Homo sapiens: one gene and its partners. The protein of the gene in region 3 purifies or fractionates together with the protein of the main gene of each other region. This does not show direct contact. Each region holds a gene or a part of one and is shown on either strand. Other genes may lie near its edges.

The links.
Region 1: the proteins of RXRA (region 3) and RIPK1 fractionate together in Homo sapiens (co-fractionation; one large-scale study listed by BioGRID). This does not show direct contact.
Region 2: the proteins of RXRA (region 3) and PRMT2 purify together in Homo sapiens (pull-down; one study listed by IntAct). This does not show direct contact.

Annotation. Positions count from the first base shown.
Region 1 is NC_000006.12:3,106,426-3,110,075, forward strand, and holds part of RIPK1 (receptor-interacting serine/threonine-protein kinase 1), read left to right. Parts: exon of another isoform or gene 1-366; intron 367-1,376; exon of another isoform or gene 1,377-1,472; intron 1,473-2,876; exon of another isoform or gene 2,877-2,971; intron 2,972-3,650. UniProt on the Homo sapiens protein: Serine-threonine kinase which is a key regulator of TNF-mediated apoptosis, necroptosis and inflammatory pathways.
Region 2 is NC_000021.9:46,656,058-46,659,707, reverse strand, and holds part of PRMT2 (protein arginine N-methyltransferase 2), read right to left. Parts: intron 964-3,650; coding exon 788-963; coding exon of another isoform or gene 784-787; exon of another isoform or gene 1-783. UniProt on the Homo sapiens protein: Arginine methyltransferase that methylates the guanidino nitrogens of arginyl residues in proteins such as STAT3, FBL, histone H4. Acts as a coactivator (with NCOA2) of the androgen receptor (AR)-mediated transactivation.
Region 3 is NC_000009.12:134,434,341-134,437,805, reverse strand, and holds part of RXRA (retinoic acid receptor RXR-alpha), read right to left. Parts: intron 1,340-3,465; coding exon 1,192-1,339; 3' UTR 1-1,191. UniProt on the Homo sapiens protein: Receptor for retinoic acid that acts as a transcription factor.

The DNA of each region.
Region 1 (3,650 bases), on a different chromosome or scaffold from region 3:
TTTTTGTTTCTGACCTTATATAGCTCAAAGACTACCATTAGTGATGAAAAATTTTCTTTTAACTCCCATATCTCTATCAGGTGAAGTAAAAGGTAGGTGATAGTAGTTACTGGCAGTCTAGAATGGAAGTGAGTTAATGTAATATCCAGCATTTTTATCAAATAATACTCACCAACATCACCTTAACTACCTGAACAGCATCTACCAATGATACCCACAGGTGTCCTGGAGATCTTGAAATCATCTCAGGTAGAGGAAGCTTTCAGAACCACAGAGCTTAGTTACATTTTCTTTCAAAAGGCCAAATTCTCCAAAAACGTCCTATGCAAACATCCTCGATTTCTTCCATAGGTTTTATGATAAGATCTGTAGAATGCAAAATATTGGATTAGACATTAAGCAGTATCCAAGTCATGTATAATCCTATGAGCAGAATGTCCTTTTGTTTCCTTCATGTTGGGGATAAAATTTTTTATTAGTATTGCCATATCATTTTATTCATTCATGATTAAGTCAATAAAAATTTCAGCTGGGGCCATGGTTGGCCAGGTGTGGTGGCTTATGCCTGTAATCTCAGCACTTTGGGAGGCTGAGGTGAGTGGATCACTTGAGGCCAGGAGTTCGAGACCAGCCTGGCTAACATGGTAAAACCCTGTCTCTACTAAATAATACAAAAATTAGCCAGGCGTGGTGGCGCATGCCTTTAGCCCCAGCTACTAGGGAGGCTGAGGCAGGAGAATCACTTGAACCCTGGAGACAGACGTTGCAGTGAGCTGAGATCATGCCACTGCACTCCAGCCTGGGCAACAGAGTGAGATTGTGTCTCGAAAAAAAAAAAAAAATTCCACTGGCTGGGCACAGTGGCTCACGCCTGTAATTCCAGCACTTTGGGAGGCCGAGGTGGGAAGATCACGAGGTCAGGAGATTGAGACCATCCTGGCTAACACGGTGAAACCCCGTCTCTACTAAAAATACAAAAAAAAAAAAAAAAAAGCTGGGCATAGTGGCGTGCGCCTGTAATCCCAGCTACTTGGGAGGGTGAGGCAGGAGAATCACTTGAACCCGGGAGGCAGAGGTTGCAGTAAGCCGAGATTGCACCACTGCACTCCAGCCTGGGTGACAGAGCGAGACTGTCGCAAAAAAAAAAAAAAAAAAAAAAAAATTCCAAAACTCTTCCCACTTTGTGACGTGCAGTTCTCCAGGCACTGGAGCTATAACTGAACAAACAGCCTGAGTCCCTTCCCTCACACAGTTTAAATCCTAGTGGACAGAAGGCAGACCCTAAACCAATATTTAATGTGTCATTTTTTATCTTTTTTCTACATGAGCAACCCAAATACACCCGTTTAGTGCCAGAAATCTCTTTGTGTTTTCACCTCGTTCTGGTTCCTGGTTCTGCCAGTGACAGATGTACAGGGATGCAGCTTCTTCAGGGTTCTGAGATGCTTTCAGTGGGAAAGGGGCGCTTGGATCTACAATAGATAATAGAATTTTCTGTGTTTCTGCTCCCAAAGATGATCCTGCCAGGTACTAAGCTAGTAAATGAACACGCTGAGTTTCTCCTTGCAAATTTAAATAAGTCTTCTGCTTGCTTTTATCATCAAAAAGTCCTAACTCTATACCAAAATATGAGTTTTCTAATTTGCCATACCATAGAAGAAGGGTGTGTATGCAGTAAGTACAAAAGGAAAATAAATGTCTTCCTTTCAGTGAAAGAGCTCTTAGACCCACTGCTTTTTATTCACTGTGCTGCTTGAAGTGAGGTTAGAAAAGGAAAGCTCACTGGGCTAAGAGTCAGGAGACCCAGGTCTAGTCCTGCTTGTGCCGGTCACTATATGGGTGACTTTGGGAAAGTCATTTGCCTCTCCAGAGTTCATTCTCCTCAATTATAAATGAAAATGTTACAACTGAAAATTTATATATTATCAGCTCTAGTATGTTTCTAGTATTGCATTCGTTTCTCCACTTCGTAACTTTCATGGTTTTTCCAGTGGTCAGATTTGGGCAGAAAGCACTGATTCAAGAACACAGATTTCCAAGTAGAGAGGTGCAGGGTAAATAAACCTCCATGTAAGCCCGCGGTGAGCGCAGACTGTGAGTGACGAACACGGTGTCAGTGTAAGCTGGAGGTGGTGGGCCAGGAGGATTAAACAGGGTAAGGCAGCTTACCACTGTGCCTGGCGATGCGCAGAGTAAGTGCTCAGTAAACGGTAGCTGCTGTTATTAGCACTGTTATTATCATTGTCAGCAAAGAACACCTAGACAGCCTTGAGCACTGGAAGGCACCTCAGAGACTGTCACAGGGGTTCCTTGCTAGGATTCCAAGGACCCCAGTTTCAGCAGCTTCACGAACACCCTGAATTGCACACAGATGGCGTGTGTGTGCACATCCTATATTTCTTACACCTTTCAGTAGAGAGGGTCCCTAGTTTCCTTGGCTTCCTCAGAGAAAATGTAACAAATGAGCACAGTGCCTGGTCCAGAGGGTGGCCTACCTTAGGGCCAGGTGTGCTGACGGAGGTACCTTGAGCTGATACTCATTTCCCTCCCTCCTCAGAACTGTCTTCTCAACCACCTTCTCTCTCCTACAAAGATATGCCAAGTGCTCTTTAGGGACAGTACCAACACTTGACAAATTCAGCTCAGCATGAATGTCATTGAGCCCATGCCCCGTACCAAGGCCCAGGCTAGCGAGTGTAAGGAGTACAAAAACAAGTGGGTGTGGTCGCTGCCCTTGGGACTCACATTCTAGTGGAGAAGTCAAACAGACCCAGCTCAGATACAGAGCGGCGCAGGGCAGAGTGCTGAGTCTAGGATTACAGTGCAGGCTCATGGAAGGAGGTGGAATTTGTGCTGGGCCTATGTCAGAAACTCACAAGCAGGGAGAAGCACGTGGGGAGGTCAGCAGTCCAGGCAGAGGCAGGAGCATCATGTCAGCAGATCGGTGGGAAATCTGGTGGGACTGGAGTCTCTGGAGTGGAGACAGGGAGGAAACAGTGAAAGGAAGATCAGAGACAAGAGGGTAGGGCAGAGCTGTGGCTAGCTTCTGAATACTGAACCTGAGAGGTTTGAGTTTATCAGGTAAAGGAGGAGGACCCTTCACAGATGCTGTTCAGAGTCGTGGGATCCCGCTGGGAAGTGTGGCTGAGCTTTGCTGTGTTGTTCATCCACTTCTGTTTTCTGACTTGGTGTTAGCCACATTTTTTTATGGTAAAATTCAAAAACATAAAATTTACCATTTCAACCATTTTTACAGTGGCATTATCTAACATTCACAGTGTTATGCAACCATCACCACCATCTATCTATATAACTGTTTTAATCTTGCAAAACTAAAACTCTGTATCCATTAAACACCAACTCCCCAGCTCCCCTCCCAGCCCCGGACAACCACCATTCTACTCTCTGTTTCTGTGACTCTGACCAGTCTAGGTACCTCATGTGAGTGGAACCATGCAGCATTTTTCTTTGTGGCTGGCTTCATTCACTTAGGAAATGTCCTCAAGCTTCATGCATGTTGTAGCATGTGATGTGATTCCCTTCCTTTTCAAGGCTGACTATTCCATTGTGTAGCTAGACCACAGTTGGGTTATCCACTCATCTGCTCATGGGTGCCTGGCTTACTTCCACCTTTTAGCTATTGTGAATAA
Region 2 (3,650 bases), on a different chromosome or scaffold from region 3:
CTGATGCCAACCTCTAAGGCCCTGGCAGCCACACCTCCCTGCCACTGCCAGGCAAGCCTGGGCTACTATTTTAATTTACTCTTTGCTTGTCTGGTAGGGAAAACAGCATGTATTTTAATTCGCATTTTAACTACTAACAACATTATAATTTTTCATATATTTATTGGTAATTTTATTTATTTTTTGCGGTTTGCCTGTTCACATGATTGGGCTGCAATTCCATCTGGCTAGTCATCTCTTTCTAATTGATTCCAAGACCTGACAGCACGTGATTTCTCTAATTACTTGTTTGCTTTTACAATCGTGTTTTTGCTGATTTCTGCCACATAGACTGCCAGATTCTATCTAGCCCAGGGTCCATTCCATCCATTGTTGCTGCTCATTTCTCCACCTAAGATGGTGCACACAGGCCCCCATGGATGTCTGTCGCTGACGCTGATTCCATGCAGAATTAAGTTTTCACGTATGGCGTGAGAGAACAAGGGCTAATCAACTGCTCCAGAATAATTTGCTGACTTGGCCCTCACTCCCTCCTAATCGTAATGCCACCTTTTTCACATACGAAAATTTTTGTTCCTTGCATTCTACCCTGCTCTGCCCATCTGTCTTGTTATAGCACCATACTGCTTTAATTACTCCAATGCTACAACAGATTGTCCTATCTGGGTGCACAGGTACCCTCATTTATCCAACCGTCGTATGGGATCTCCCAGGGCCTTGGCCCACCTGCAGACTGTGGACCAGGAGGCCCCACAAGACGGTGCCAGTCCCAGCTGTGGACACTTACTTCAGAGCGCTGAGGTTGAACTCGTACGCGTTGTCCCAGAAGAGCACCTTGCTACGATAATCCTTATCAGCACTGCAGGGCACAAGGTGCAACGCAGCCATGGTGGGCCAAATGACCCCGTCCTCCTTCAGCCAGGCATCCCGGGCATACAGGATGGACTCGATCATGAACTCAAACTGCATAGGAGTGAAAGACACACAGGAGACACATCACAGGCCCCGCGGCTGCACAGGCCTCTCACCACCACATTCGTAACACTAGTCTGACAGTTCTACAGTTTTAGCCTCAAGAATATTCCTGCCTAGGCCAGTGTACCATGCAAGAGAACATCTCGAGGGTTTATTTTATGCCCACACGTCACTGATGCATCTCACAGCCTGGGTTTAAGTCACATAATTTCCCATTAGAACTATGAACTGGAGCAGAGCTAAAAGCAAGGACAAATCTTCACTCTTGTCCCATCTCAGTCACGGAAGAGCTCGTAGCTACCAGATTTTGAAAGAGCCCTGAAGTGTTGCCGGGTCCCAACTGTTACATAAAATATATTTGGTCCGTAGCATTCTCAGAATTTTCACACCCTTTAAGTGGACTGAAATCACTGCTTAAGAAACCGAAAGCCACGCAGGCATGCCCTGGCCATTCACGGGTCCTTTGGTCCACCTTGCATCCCTCAGAAGGTCCCAAGTCAAGGGAAGCACATCACATCTATGACTGAGGAAGTGGGGACCCAACGCCCTCAAAGGCCAGGCTTTCTGTCTGAACCAGAACTTGCTTCAAACACAGAAAGGAGTAGAGGGAGCACCAGCGAGGTGGGGCCAAGGCCTGTGGCCCCTGCAAACCACCCAGGGAGCCTGCACTTCATCCTGTAGTTGATGAGAAACAACAGAAGTGTTTTGCTTCCTTAAATAATCTCAAGCTGCTTTTATTACAGAAGTAATACATGTTTTGTACGGAAAATGTAGAAAACTTAGAAAAGCTCAAACAAACATAAAAATCACATATTAACCCAGTACCTAGAAGGAACCACTGTTATCACTCTGCAGTTTACCTTCAAGTATTTTTCTACACACGCACACAAAAAATATATACATCTTATTTTTCAATCTTATTTTTTCAGTTATGTAGTGAAACAGCTTTTCTGGCGTACAGCCTACGAACTTGAGCGCTTGTGTGGATTTTGTCCTCACAACCACAGCCAGCATACACACAGCTCTGCCACCCAAAACACTCTTCACCCTTTTCTCTGGTGGTCATGCCCTCCCCGACCCCAGCCTCTCCAGCCACCGATCTGGTCTCCATCCCCATGGTCTTGTGTCTTTTTGAGAATATCATACAAATGGAACCAAACAGTACATAACCTTTCAAGACAAGTTTCTTTCACTCACTGTACCGTTTCTGGGGTTCCTCCAAATTACCTGTTTCAATAACTGGCTCCTCTTCACTGCTCAGTGGTATTCCACTGTGTGGACGCACCAGTTTATCCTTAAGGATTATCCAGATGAAGGACACTTGGGTTGTTTCCAGGTTTTGTTTTTTTTTTTTTTGCAATTATAAAGAGAGCTAGTATAATCATTCACATACAGGTTTTTGTGTGAACACAGCTTGCATATCTCTGGGTTGAACACACAGGAGAGGGACTCCTGGGCATAAGGTGAGTGCACATACAAGTCTATAAGAAAGCACCCACCTGTTTCCACAGTGGCATGTTCCCTCCAGCAATGCATGACTTTCAGCTGTTCCTCATCCTCGATGACAGTTGGTATTACTATCAGATTTTTTTTTTATTGTAGTCATTTTTCAATGGGTGTAAGTGATATCTCACTGTGGCTTTAATGTGCATTTCCCTGATGGCTATGCTGAACATCTTTTCATGTGTGTATTTGATATCTGTATATCCACTTTGGTAAAGTGTCTGTTCAAGTATTTTGCCCATTTTCAATTGGCTTGTTTTCTTCCTGTTGAGTTTTGAGATTTCTCTGTATATTCAGAACACACACTGGATATGTTCTTTGCAATATTTTCTCCTAATCTTAGCTTGTCTTTTTTATTCTCTTAGCATCATCCTTTTGCAGAGCAGTCATTTTTAGTTTTGATGAAATTCAATTTATCAACATTTTCTGCTATGGATCACGCTTTTAGAGTAAAAAGTCTTTGCCCAAGTCCAGGTGATGAAGATTTTCTATGATTTTTTCAAGGAGGTTTATAGTTTTACATTTCACACACTTAGATCTATGATCAATTTTAAGTTCAGCTGTGTATGAGATGTGAGGTTGAGGTGTTGTTTTTTAGATATGGATGACAACTATTCCAGTAACATTTGCTGAAAAGACTGTCTTTTCTCCATTAAATTGATTTTTGTACCTTTGTTAAAAAAAACCCATTGACCATATTTGTAGAAATCTCTCGTCTCCATTCCATTGACTTACGTGTCTGTCCCTTCACCACATTGTCCTGATTACTGTAGCTTCAAAATCAAGTAGTATAGTTCCTCCAACTTTACCCTTCTTTTAAAAAATTCTATCAGCTACTCTAGTTCTCTTAGTCCATTTTTGTGTTGCCAAAAAGGAATATCTGAGGCTGGGTAATTTATAAAGAAATGAGGTTTATTTGGCTCATGGTTCTGCTGGTTGGGAAAGTTCAGGATTGGGCATCCAGTGAGGGCTTCAGGCTATTTCCCCTCACGGTGGAAAGCAAAGGGGAGCTGGCACGTGCAGAGACCACAGGGTGGGAGCAGAGGCAAGTGGGCGTGCCAGGCTCTTTTTCACAACCAGCTCTTGTTGGGACCTGAAAGAGCTAGAACTCACTTATCTACCCACGAGGAAGGGCATTCATCTATTCATGAGGGATCCACACCCATGACCCA
Region 3 (3,465 bases):
GAGGGCGCTGCGACTCCGGGTTCTCAGATTCCAAGAGTCTTTTAGACACAACTGGCAGCCAGAGAGAAGGCCTGAGCAGGGGTCCCACCAATGCCCCGGCAGAGCCACTCCAGGCCGCGGAGCATCTGCCCCACCCACGAGGCTCCCAGTTCCTGAGCCCCTCTCTCTCCAGGCCACCTGCCCCCTCTGAGGGAAACCAACAGGCCACCCTCCTCCCCTCCCATCCCCGCGGGCCTCACAGATGGCTGCAGGTCCGCAGAGCCCTGTGCCTCCAGCAAGGCCAGTGAGGTGGTGATGCCCCACCCTGCCCGAGCCAGGGCCAGCCCTGCAGGAAACAAGGACAAGCCTCAGCCCACCCCGCAGAGCAAGGAGAAGACTCAGGCTGGGGAGGGGCCGGGGCACTCTGGTCTGAACGGGGAGTCGGGAGTCTGAAACCAGAACACCAAGGCAGAGAGAAAACAGGGGGGTGAGTGACCCGCCCCTGCAGCCTGGAGGTGGCCCCGAAACCTTGCACAGAGGGCAGCTCATGTTCTCATTGGCTCGAGGGCAAAACTGTGAGTTATCTTTGGAAAAAGGGGCTACCTTCCCCCTCACTCAGAGCACAGGGCAGCTTGCTTGCCCCACGAGTCCCCTCTCATCCCCGAGGCGGCTGAGGTCTTTGCTGATGACACACCAGCTTGCGCCCCCAGCTGTCCCCTCCTGATTAGGGGGAAGCTGTCACGGGCTGGCTGGGCACCAGTATTCAGAGCAGATGAAGATGTCACTCCAGACAGGAGGGCCACACAGGAATTCTGAAAACCAGCATCGATAAACAGCAACGGAAACAAAAGCCCCGTTCCCAACTCCTGCAGCTCCAGGGCTGGGGCCCGAAGACCCTGTAGTCGCCCAAGCCCCGTGGGGTGTGGCAGGGTGTCCTGAGAGCCCGGTGGGGAGGCGCCTGGCTGGGCTCACGCTAGTTCTTGCCACGAAGGCTGCTGCCTCAGGAAAGCCACTGCCCTGGGCCACAGACAAGTAGTAACAGAAATAAGGAGGGTGACAACACATCTCTTAGGCAGAGCAGTGACAGGCTGTGCCCCAAAGTCCAAACAGGCCAGGCAGAGAAGGGCAGGGACAGGGCTCAGGCTGAGAAGAACAGCTGGCGTCCAGGCAGGGTGGCCAGAACGGGTGGGCACAAAGGATGGGCCCGCAGGCCTAAGTCATTTGGTGCGGCGCCTCCAGCATCTCCATAAGGAAGGTGTCAATGGGTGTGTCCCCGATGAGCTTGAAGAAGAAGAGATGTTCCAGGCATTTGAGCCCGATGGAGCGCAGAGCCGGCAGGCGGAGCAAGAGCTTAGCGAACCTGCAGGGAACAGGTCTGGTGAGGGCCGGGCAAGGGGCATGGGCAGTTCTGCCCTGGCACTGGAGGCCTCCCTGGGGATGGGGCTGTGTCTGATACCCCAACCCCTCTGAGGCTGGTCTGTAGCCCTGAATCTGCCTATGCCAAGCCTCCAGAAGGAAGGAGGGGAGGCTAGAAGGAAACAGAGGCAGTGGCAACCCAGAGCCAGGACAGAGTGAAGGGAGATCCCTGGGTCTGAGGACGGAGATGAAGGGCCAGGGGCCAGACAGCAGCTGGCTAGGGCAGACTGAATAGCTCTTTGTGAAGAAGTTAAAAATTGCAGGCAGTTGGGCATGATGGCTCACACTTGTAATCTCAGCACTTTGAGAGGCCGAGGTGGGAGGATGGCTTGAGGCCAGGAGTTCGAGACCAGCCTGGGCAACGCAGTGAGACCCTGTCTCTACAAAAGAAAAAGAGAAAAACAGTAGCAAGGCGTGGTGGTGCATGCCTGCAGGGAGGACCGCTTGAGCCCAGGAGGTTGAGGCTGCAATGAGCTACGATCGCAGCACTGCACTCCAGCCTGGGCGACACAGCCAGACTGTCTCTCAAAAAATGAAAAACTGTGGGCCATGACAGCCGGGAGCGGGTGTGAGTATCAGTAATGCATCTGGCTGCAGCAGCCATCACAGCAAGAGACTGCGGGGCTTGTAAGGGAAAGGGCTGCTGAGCACACTGGTGAGTCGCAGGGAACAGGCCCGGCACATGGTGGGCAACCAAGAAGTCAAAGAGCATCAGGCGGGGGAGGGGGAGTCAGGCTGCACCCCCACTGCAGGTGGAGCCAGGCCTGACTTGGGAGCTGTGTAACGGTGCAAGACCCTTTCCATAAAGCATCAGCACCCCATGAGTGCCTCCCACGGCACCTTGTGCAGGGCTGTGGGCCCCAGACCAGGGCCACCCCTTCCTCAGAAATAGCTCTGCTGGCATTGGGCACAGCATGGTCAGAGAAGGCTGGCCGGGGAGGGAGGGAGCACGGGTTGGTCCTCAGGGCCTGGCCCATCCCTGGGGAGTTTCCTGGGGCAGGGACCAGTGGGGGGGCGGGAGGGAGGGGGGAAGTCTGGGGCTCTGGGAAGAGGGATAGCAGGGCCAGGCATGAGGGCAGCAGCTGCCGCTGAGGACAGGGTGCTATGGGGACGGAACCAGGTGTCCCTTCCGGCTGGCCGTGTCTGCCCAGGGCCCCTGTGCACGGCCTGAGTCTCTCCACACGGCCCCTCCAGGGGCTGCAGGACCTCATTAATTATTAACGAAGTCTTTCTTTCAGGGAAAAGCTCTGTGGTTGGCTGCCTCACAGGCCTTGTTTTAAAGGCAAAAACAGCGCAGAGGCTGGAGTTGGGCCAGAGAACAAGCTGTTTTCTGCTGAGCTGGCGAGATGGGCCAGGGCAGAAAGCCAGGAAAAACAAGCTGCCTGCCACCCCCTCCTGTCCTCGTCCTCCGGGAAGTTTCACTTTAAACCAAGCCAGATGAGGGCTGGGCAGGCAGCGGGGACACGGTTAACTGTGTATGTGCTGGTGGCGGGAAGGCCTGGGTGTCCTATGAGGTCTGCTGGGCCCCACCTCCCCCGACCCCCTCCCCGCCCCACAGTCTGAGGATCAAGAGGCCAGGAGATGCCCCTTTAGAGAGAAGAGGCAGAATCTGGAGCGCTGACTTTGAATCCCAGGCAGGGATCCACAAACGTTTCTCTTCCTGGACACCTACTGTGCACCCAGCACTGTGGACTCAGAAATGAGGGAGCCCCAGCCCTTCCAGGGCCCACAGCCGGGCAGGGGGGAAACATGAGCGCTACGCTCAGGCCGTGACCGCCTATTCCGTACACACTTGTAGAGAGTGTTTAGTATGTGTGGGCATCTGGCCATCCATTCTACACATGCTTGTGAAGTACCTACTATGTGCTGGTGTCGCCTGGCCTCTGGTGGTTCTGCTTGGTAGGGGAGCGCAGTGGGGGGTGAAGCACAGCCTTCATCTATCTACTGAACAAAGAGAAGCACCTACTATGCGCCAGGTGCAAGGTAATCCTTCCAGTGGGGATACGACGTGGGCCTGTGGGGTGTGCCCGCCACAGCCCACTGGCCTGGAGGACCTCCTGCTGCCTGCTC